2 linked regions of the Homo sapiens genome follow. The protein of the gene in region 2 purifies or fractionates together with the protein of the main gene of each other region. This does not show direct contact. Each region holds a gene or a part of one and is shown on either strand. Other genes may lie near its edges.

What was found. Proteins that work in one complex are often made in the same cells at the same time.
Region 1: the proteins of PRPSAP2 (region 2) and BTK purify together in Homo sapiens (co-immunoprecipitation; one large-scale study listed by IntAct). This does not show direct contact.

What each region holds. Positions count from the first base shown.
Region 1 is NC_000023.11:101,379,692-101,383,191, forward strand, and holds part of BTK (tyrosine-protein kinase BTK), read right to left. Parts: intron 1-3,500. UniProt on the Homo sapiens protein: Non-receptor tyrosine kinase indispensable for B lymphocyte development, differentiation and signaling. Binding of antigen to the B-cell antigen receptor (BCR) triggers signaling that ultimately leads to B-cell activation.
Region 2 is NC_000017.11:18,878,631-18,882,130, forward strand, and holds part of PRPSAP2 (phosphoribosyl pyrophosphate synthase-associated protein 2), read left to right. Parts: intron 1-3,500. UniProt on the Homo sapiens protein: Seems to play a negative regulatory role in 5-phosphoribose 1-diphosphate synthesis.

The sequences.
Region 1 (3,500 bases), on a different chromosome or scaffold from region 2:
TGGCTATCATCAAAGAGCAGTTGTGACAAACTCCTCTCCATTTTCTAGGAATGTTCAGCAAGAGAGGAAATGGTGGTAAATACAGGAGATAAGAGAGTATTCAAGATCCTAAGCTCTTTCCTCTGCAATATTCCTCCAGGCTGGTAAGGATGATCTGTCTCTGGTAACTGTCAACTATACTTTTTTTGCACTTGAGGACTCTTCTTAGTCTTGCCAGGTTTTCTTACATTTTCCCTCTTTAAATCATTCCCAAGGAGATTCTGTCTAACTAGTGAATTTCTAGAGTCACTTGTTGTTTCCTTTCCTGGATGTTTCATTGTTGATGGAATGAAAGCACAGTGTTTAGGTGGAACATCCACCCTTCTCTGTCCCTAGGGTTCTTATTGCTTACTGTGAATATAAAACTTTGATCAAATATACCTTCTATTTTTTTGAGACAGGGTCTCACTCTGTCACCCAGGATGGAGTGCAGTAGCAAGATCACCACTCACTGCAGCCTCCACCTCCTGGGCTCAAGCGATCCTCCTGCCTCAGCCTCTCAAGTAGCTGGGACTACAGGTGTGCACTACCACACCCAGCTAATTTTTAATTTTTTTGTAGAGACACGGGTCTCACTTTGTTGCCTAGGCTAGTCTCAAACTCCTGGATGCAAGTGATCTTCTTGTCTCAGCCTTCCAAAGTGTGGGGATTACAGGCATGAGCTGCTGCACCTGGCCTCAAATATACTTTGTTTTATATTATGAAATATTTCAAATAGAAAGTACAGGGACTATAACATTACAATCTTGGACTCACCGCTTAGCTCTACAAAATCCTAAAATTGTGCCATATTGCCTCACGTGTTAAGAAGTGAGATACAATCTATATAATCAAGACCCCTTTATGTACTCCAAAATCTTAGTCTTCTCCCTCCATAGAGATTACCAATATCTTGAGTTTGGTGTTTATCATTCCTAGGTATGTTTTCATATTATTATTACAGATGTAAGTATCTATAAAAGATATATAGTATTGGTTTACATGTTTAAAATTTACATATGGCCAGGTGCGGTAACTCAGGCCTGTAATCCCAGCACTTTGGGAGGCTGAGGCGGGTGGATGACAAGGTCAGGAGTTTGAGAGCAGCCAGCCTGACCAACATGGAGAAACCCTGTCTCTACTAAAAATACAAAAACTAGCTGGGCCAACGCTACTCTCCCAGCTACTCAGGAGGCTGAGGCGGGAGAATCCCTTGAACCCGGGAGGCAGAGGTTGCAGTGAGCCGAGATCTTGCCATTGCACTCCAGCCTGGGCAACAAGAGTGAAACTCGGTCGCGAAAAAAAAAAAAAAAAAAAAAGAAAATTTATATATATATATATGGTACACATTCTCCAGCAACTTGCTTTTTTCCCCTCAATATAATATGTTAGGATTTATTTATCTGGCTAGTTCTACTTCATATGTTTTAATTCATTTTTATATGCATAAAATATTCTATATGATGAATACATTCCAATATATTTATTCATTCTCCTGTTGATGGACATTTAGGTTGTTTGCTTTCAGTGATAAACAATGCTGCTGTGAACATTATTTTGATTTTTTGATCTCAGAATGAATTCTCAGTTACTTAGACAAACTGGCAAACCTAGGTCCAGCTTATCTTTTGGACTATGCAATTTGCATCATTCCTTCTTGCCTTTTCAGTCCTGTCTTCCTGATGCTTCACTATGAAATGTGGTAGAATTATCAACTATCTCTAGTGGGAGGTTAAATTTGGCCTACGGAAAATCTCTTCCCAGTCCCAAGAAGCATCCTTCACGTTCTAACTGAGATTTCAATTGAGAATTCCTTGGCCTTGGGACCAGAAGAGAACGTGTTAAGAACTGAAATACTATCTATATAATCAAGACCCCTTTATGTACTCCAAAATCTTAGTCTTCTCCCTCCTTAGAGATTACCAATATCTTGAATTTGGTGTTTATCATTCCTAGGTACGTTTTCATATTATCATTACAGATGTAAATATCTATAAAAGATATACAGTATTGGTTTACATGTTTAAAATTTACATATGGCCACGTGTGGTAGCTCATGCCTGTAATCCCAGCACTTTGGGAGGCTGAGGCGGCTGGATGGCAAGGTCAGGAGTTTGAGAGCAGCCAGCCTGACCAACATGGAGAAACCCTGTCTCTACTAAAAATACAAAAATTAGCCTGGCGTGGTGGCGCGCACCTGTAATCCCAGTTACTCAGGAGGCTGAGGCAGGAGAATTGCTTGAACCCAGGAGGCGGAGGTTGCAGTGAGCCGAGATCGTGCCACTGCACTCCAGCCTGGGTGACAGAGTCAGACTCCGTCTCAAAAAAAAAAAAAAAGAAAAAAGAAAAAAAAATCATACCCACAGCAACAAAGCAACCTTTAATCTTGTTAAATTCCCAAGATGCTTTTGTTCGGGCCCCAGTGAAACCCAATTATTTTATGATAAGCTTCATAGTCAAGGCTACAGGGGACCAAATTTGTGATGAAGGCATCAAGCCAAACTCAATTTTCGAAAGCTGCATGCTGACCAGGGAAACTCTCCTGCTGTAGTCATTTACAGGAGGCCTTAGGGCTCTCTGGTTCTTCCACAGCAGTTCATGTTTTATTTATTTATTTATTTATTTATTTATTTTTGAGACAGAGTCTCGCTCTGTCATCCAGGCTTCGGTACAGTAGCGCAATCTTGGCTCACTGCAATCGCTACCTCCCAGTTTCAAGCAATTCTCTTGCCTCAGCCTCCTGAGTAGCTTGGACTACAGCCGCACACCATGACACCTGCCTCGGCCTCCCAAAATGCTGGGATTACAGGCTTGAGCCACCGCGCCTGGCCTTATGTTTTTAGCATTTTACATTTTTCTTCTGTGGTTTTGGAAACTTCTAGGTCTCTGTGATTCATCATCTCTTTTTGTCTTGCATTAGCGACAATATATTCTGGCCAACTGATGATGGAAGGAGAGCCAGAGAGCCAATCTGCAAGTTTATAGTCAGTGCCAGATCAGATCAGTGGTAATACTTTCAATATTCTCCCTCTGCTCTGAGGGTGACTGCTGGGGTGTCTGTCTTTCACTCTGGACTTGTGTGCCCTTTTGGCCTTCTTTTTCAACCTAGTTTTTGTTTTCCTTGGCTTAAACATTTTATTTATTTTTTCCATCGATATCAAAATAACACACGCAGCTGGGTGCAGTGGGGTGCACCTGTAGTCCCAGCTACTCAGGAGGCTGATATTGGAGGATTGCTTGAGCCCAAGAGTTCAAGGTCAGCCTGAGAAACATAGGGAGACCCCCATCTCAAAATAAAACAAAATATAGTAAAATAAAACATGCTTATTGTAGAAAATATGTCAAGTACAGGGATATAAAAAAGAAAAAATCATTCATAAACTCATCCAGAGGCATTAATATATCGGCATATTCCTTCCATTTTTTTCTGTGTGTGTTTCTTATAATATTTGAGATCATATTGCACATTCAGTTAATTTACC
Region 2 (3,500 bases):
CACCACAACCTCCACCTCCCCGGTTCAAGCGATTCTCCTGCCTCAGCCTCCCAAGTAGCTGGGATTACAGGCATGCGCCACCACGCCCGGCTAATTTTGTATTTTTAGTAGAGACAGGGTTTCTCCATGTTGGTCAGGCTGGTCTCAAACTCCCGACCCCGCCTCAGACTCCCAAAGTGCTGGGATTACAGGCGTAAGCCACTGCACCCGGCCTATGATTTTTTTATTTTAATTTTTATTCTGTTTATTTATTTTTTGAGACGGAGTCTTGCTCCGTTGCCCAGGCTGGAGTGCAGTGGTGGCACCTCGGCTCACTGCAACCACTGTCTCCTGGGTTCAAGCGATTTTTGTACCTTAGCTTCTCTAGTAGCTGGGACTACAGGTGCCTGCCACCACACTCAGCTAATTTTTGTATTTTTAGTAGAGATGGGGTTTTGCCATGTTGGCCAGGCTGGTCTCGAACTCCTGACCTCAAGTGATCCACCTGCTTTGGGCTCCTAAAATTCTGGGATTACAGACACAAGCCACCATAGCCAGCCTGAATGTATATGATTTTAGAAGGTATGTATCACGGAGCATTTGCACAGAGTGAATAGAATAAAAGTCCCCATATCACTGCATTTTAAGACAGGTACTTACTGTAGAATAAACCTTTTTTTTTGTTTGTTTTTTGAGACGGAGTCTTGCTCTGTTGCCCAGTCTGGAGTGCAATGACGTGATCTTGGCTCACTGCAACCTCCACCACCCGGGTTCAAGCAATTCTCCTGCCTCAGCCCCCAGAGTAGCTGGGATTGCAGGCACACACCAACATGCCCAACTAATTATTATTATTTTTATTTTTTATTTTTGAGTCTCACCTGTCATCCAGGCTGGAGTGCAGTAGCGTGATCTCGGCTCACCGCAACCTCCACTTCCTGGGTTTAAGCGATTCACCTGCCTCAGCCTCCTGAGTAGCTGGGATTACTGGCGCCCACCACCACGCCTGGCTAATTTTTGTATTTTTAGTAGAGACGAGGTTTCACCATGTTGGCCATGCTTGTCTCGAACTCTTGACCTCAGGTGATCCACCTTCCTCAGCCTCCCAAAGTGTTGGGATTACAGGCGTGAGCCACCACGCCCAGCCCAGAATAAACTTTCTAAGATAGTTTTTCAGTAAAGGCAAACGTAAAACAAACATTTAAAAACTAGGCAGGGTGTGGTGGCTCACGCCTGTAATCCCAGCACTTTGGGAGAACCAGGGGGCGATCACCTGAGGTTGGGAGTTCAGAGCAGCCTAACCAACATGGAAAAACCCCGTCTCTACTAACAATACAAAATTAGCCGGGTGTGGTGACACATGCCTGTAATCCCAGCTACTCGGGAGTCTGAGGCAGGAGAATTGCTTGAACCCGGGAGGTGGAGGTTGTGGTGAACCAAGATCATGCCGTTGCACTCCAGCCTGGGCAACAAGAGCAAAACTCCGTCTCAAAAAAATAAAAATAAAATTAAAAACTCAACCCGAAGCAACCTCAGGAGCCTACCCCATTGTAAACACTATGACAGGCAGCTGGTGAGGAGAGCAGGCTTGCCTGCTGAATCTTCAGGAAAGGGCCCATCTTCTCTACCAGCCTTGCTTGATGGGCCTCCAGACTTACTTTCCTGTTCTTTTGGGCAAGTAATGCTTTAAACAATTTTTCATACTGAATTTTCCTTACACTTTTCTGGTGATCGTTACAAAGGTGGTGAAGGTTTTCTGTTTTCTCCAATTTCCAGGCTGGTGCAGTTTGTCTTGATATCTTTTTTTTTCCCCATGGGTCTCAGTCCTCTTGCCCGGGCTGGGGTGCAGTGGTGTGATCACTGCTCACTACCAGGAGGTAGCCTTGACCTCCTGGGTTCAAGTGATCCTCCGACCTTAGCTTCCAGAGTAACTAGGGACTACAGGCATGCATCACCATACCTGACTAGTTTTTTGTATTTTTAGTAGAAATGGAGTCTCACCATGTGGCCCAGGCCATTTTCAAACACCTGGGCTCAAGTGATACTCCTGCCTCGGCCTCCCAAAGTGCTGGGTTTACAGGCATGAGCCACCACACCCGGCTGACTTGTTATCTTAAGACTGGACTTTGCCATGCCTGTTAAACTTCAAGAAGATTTGATCTGCTCTAATATAATTTTTAAAGACTCTTCTGTATTACTGTTATCTTTGCTATATTATGACTATTTTTTATTTATTTATTTTTTCGAGATGGAGTCTCGCTCTGTCGCCCAGGCTGGAGTGCAGTGGCATGATCTCAGCTCACTGCAACCTCCACCTCCTGGATTCAAGTGATTCTCCTGCCTCAGCCTCCCTAGAAGCTGAGATTACAGGCACATGCCACCACACTTGGCTAATTTTTGTATTTTTAGTAGAGACGGGGTTTCACCGTGTTGGCCAGGCTGGTCTTGAACTCCTGACCTCAGGTGATCCGCCTGCCTCAGCCTTCCAAAGTGCTGGGATTACAGCTGTGAGCCATCGCACCTGACCAAGACTTTAAATTGATGTGAAAATCAGGCATCTCACAGTACTAAAAAAAAAAAAATTTTTTTTGAAAAATACAAGTGCTGAGTTTTTTTGATGGTAGAACAATTTTGTCTTTTTTTTTTTGAGACCAAGTCTCCCCCTTTCACCCAGGTCGGAGTGAAGTGGTGCGATCTCGGCTCACTGCAACCTCCGCCCCCCCAGGTTCAAGCGAATTCTCCTGCCTCAGCCTCCCGAGTAGCTGGGATTATGGGCACGTGCCACCATGCCTGGCTAATTTTTGTGTTTTTAGTAGAGATGAGGTTTCGCCATGTTGGCCAGGCTGGTCTCCAACTCCTGACCTCAGGTGATCCACCCGCCTCGGCCTCCCAAAGTGCTGGGATTACAGGCGTGAGCCACCGTGTCCGGCCTTATTTTTTATTTTTTTGAGGCAAGATCTCACTCTGTCACCCAGACTGGAATGCAGTGGCTCAATCTCAGCTCACTTGCAGCCTTGACCTTCTGCACTGAAGCGATTCTCCCACCTTAGCCTCCTGAGTATCTGGGACTACAGATGTGCGCCACCATGCCTGGCTAATTTTTGTTTTGTAGAGGCGGGGTTTTGCCATGTTCCCCAGGCTGATCTCAAACTCCTGAGCTCAAGCAGTTTGTCAGCCTTGGCCTTCAAAGTGCTAGGATTACAGGCGTGAGCCACTGTGCCCGGCCATGAGAGCAATTTTTTTTTTTTTTTTGAGACGGAGTCTTGCTCTGTCACCCAGGCTGGAGTGCAGTGGCATGATCTTGGCTCACTGCAACCTCTGCCTCCCGGATTCAAGCTATTCTTCTGCCTCAGCCTCCCAAGTAGCTGGGACTACAGGCACACGCCACCACGCCCAGCTAATTTTTGTATTTTTAGTAAAGATGGGGTTTCATCATATTGGTCAGGCTGGCGTTGAACTCCTGACCTTGTGATCCACCCACCTCGCCCTCCCAAAGTGCTGGGATTACAGGCGTGAGCCACAGT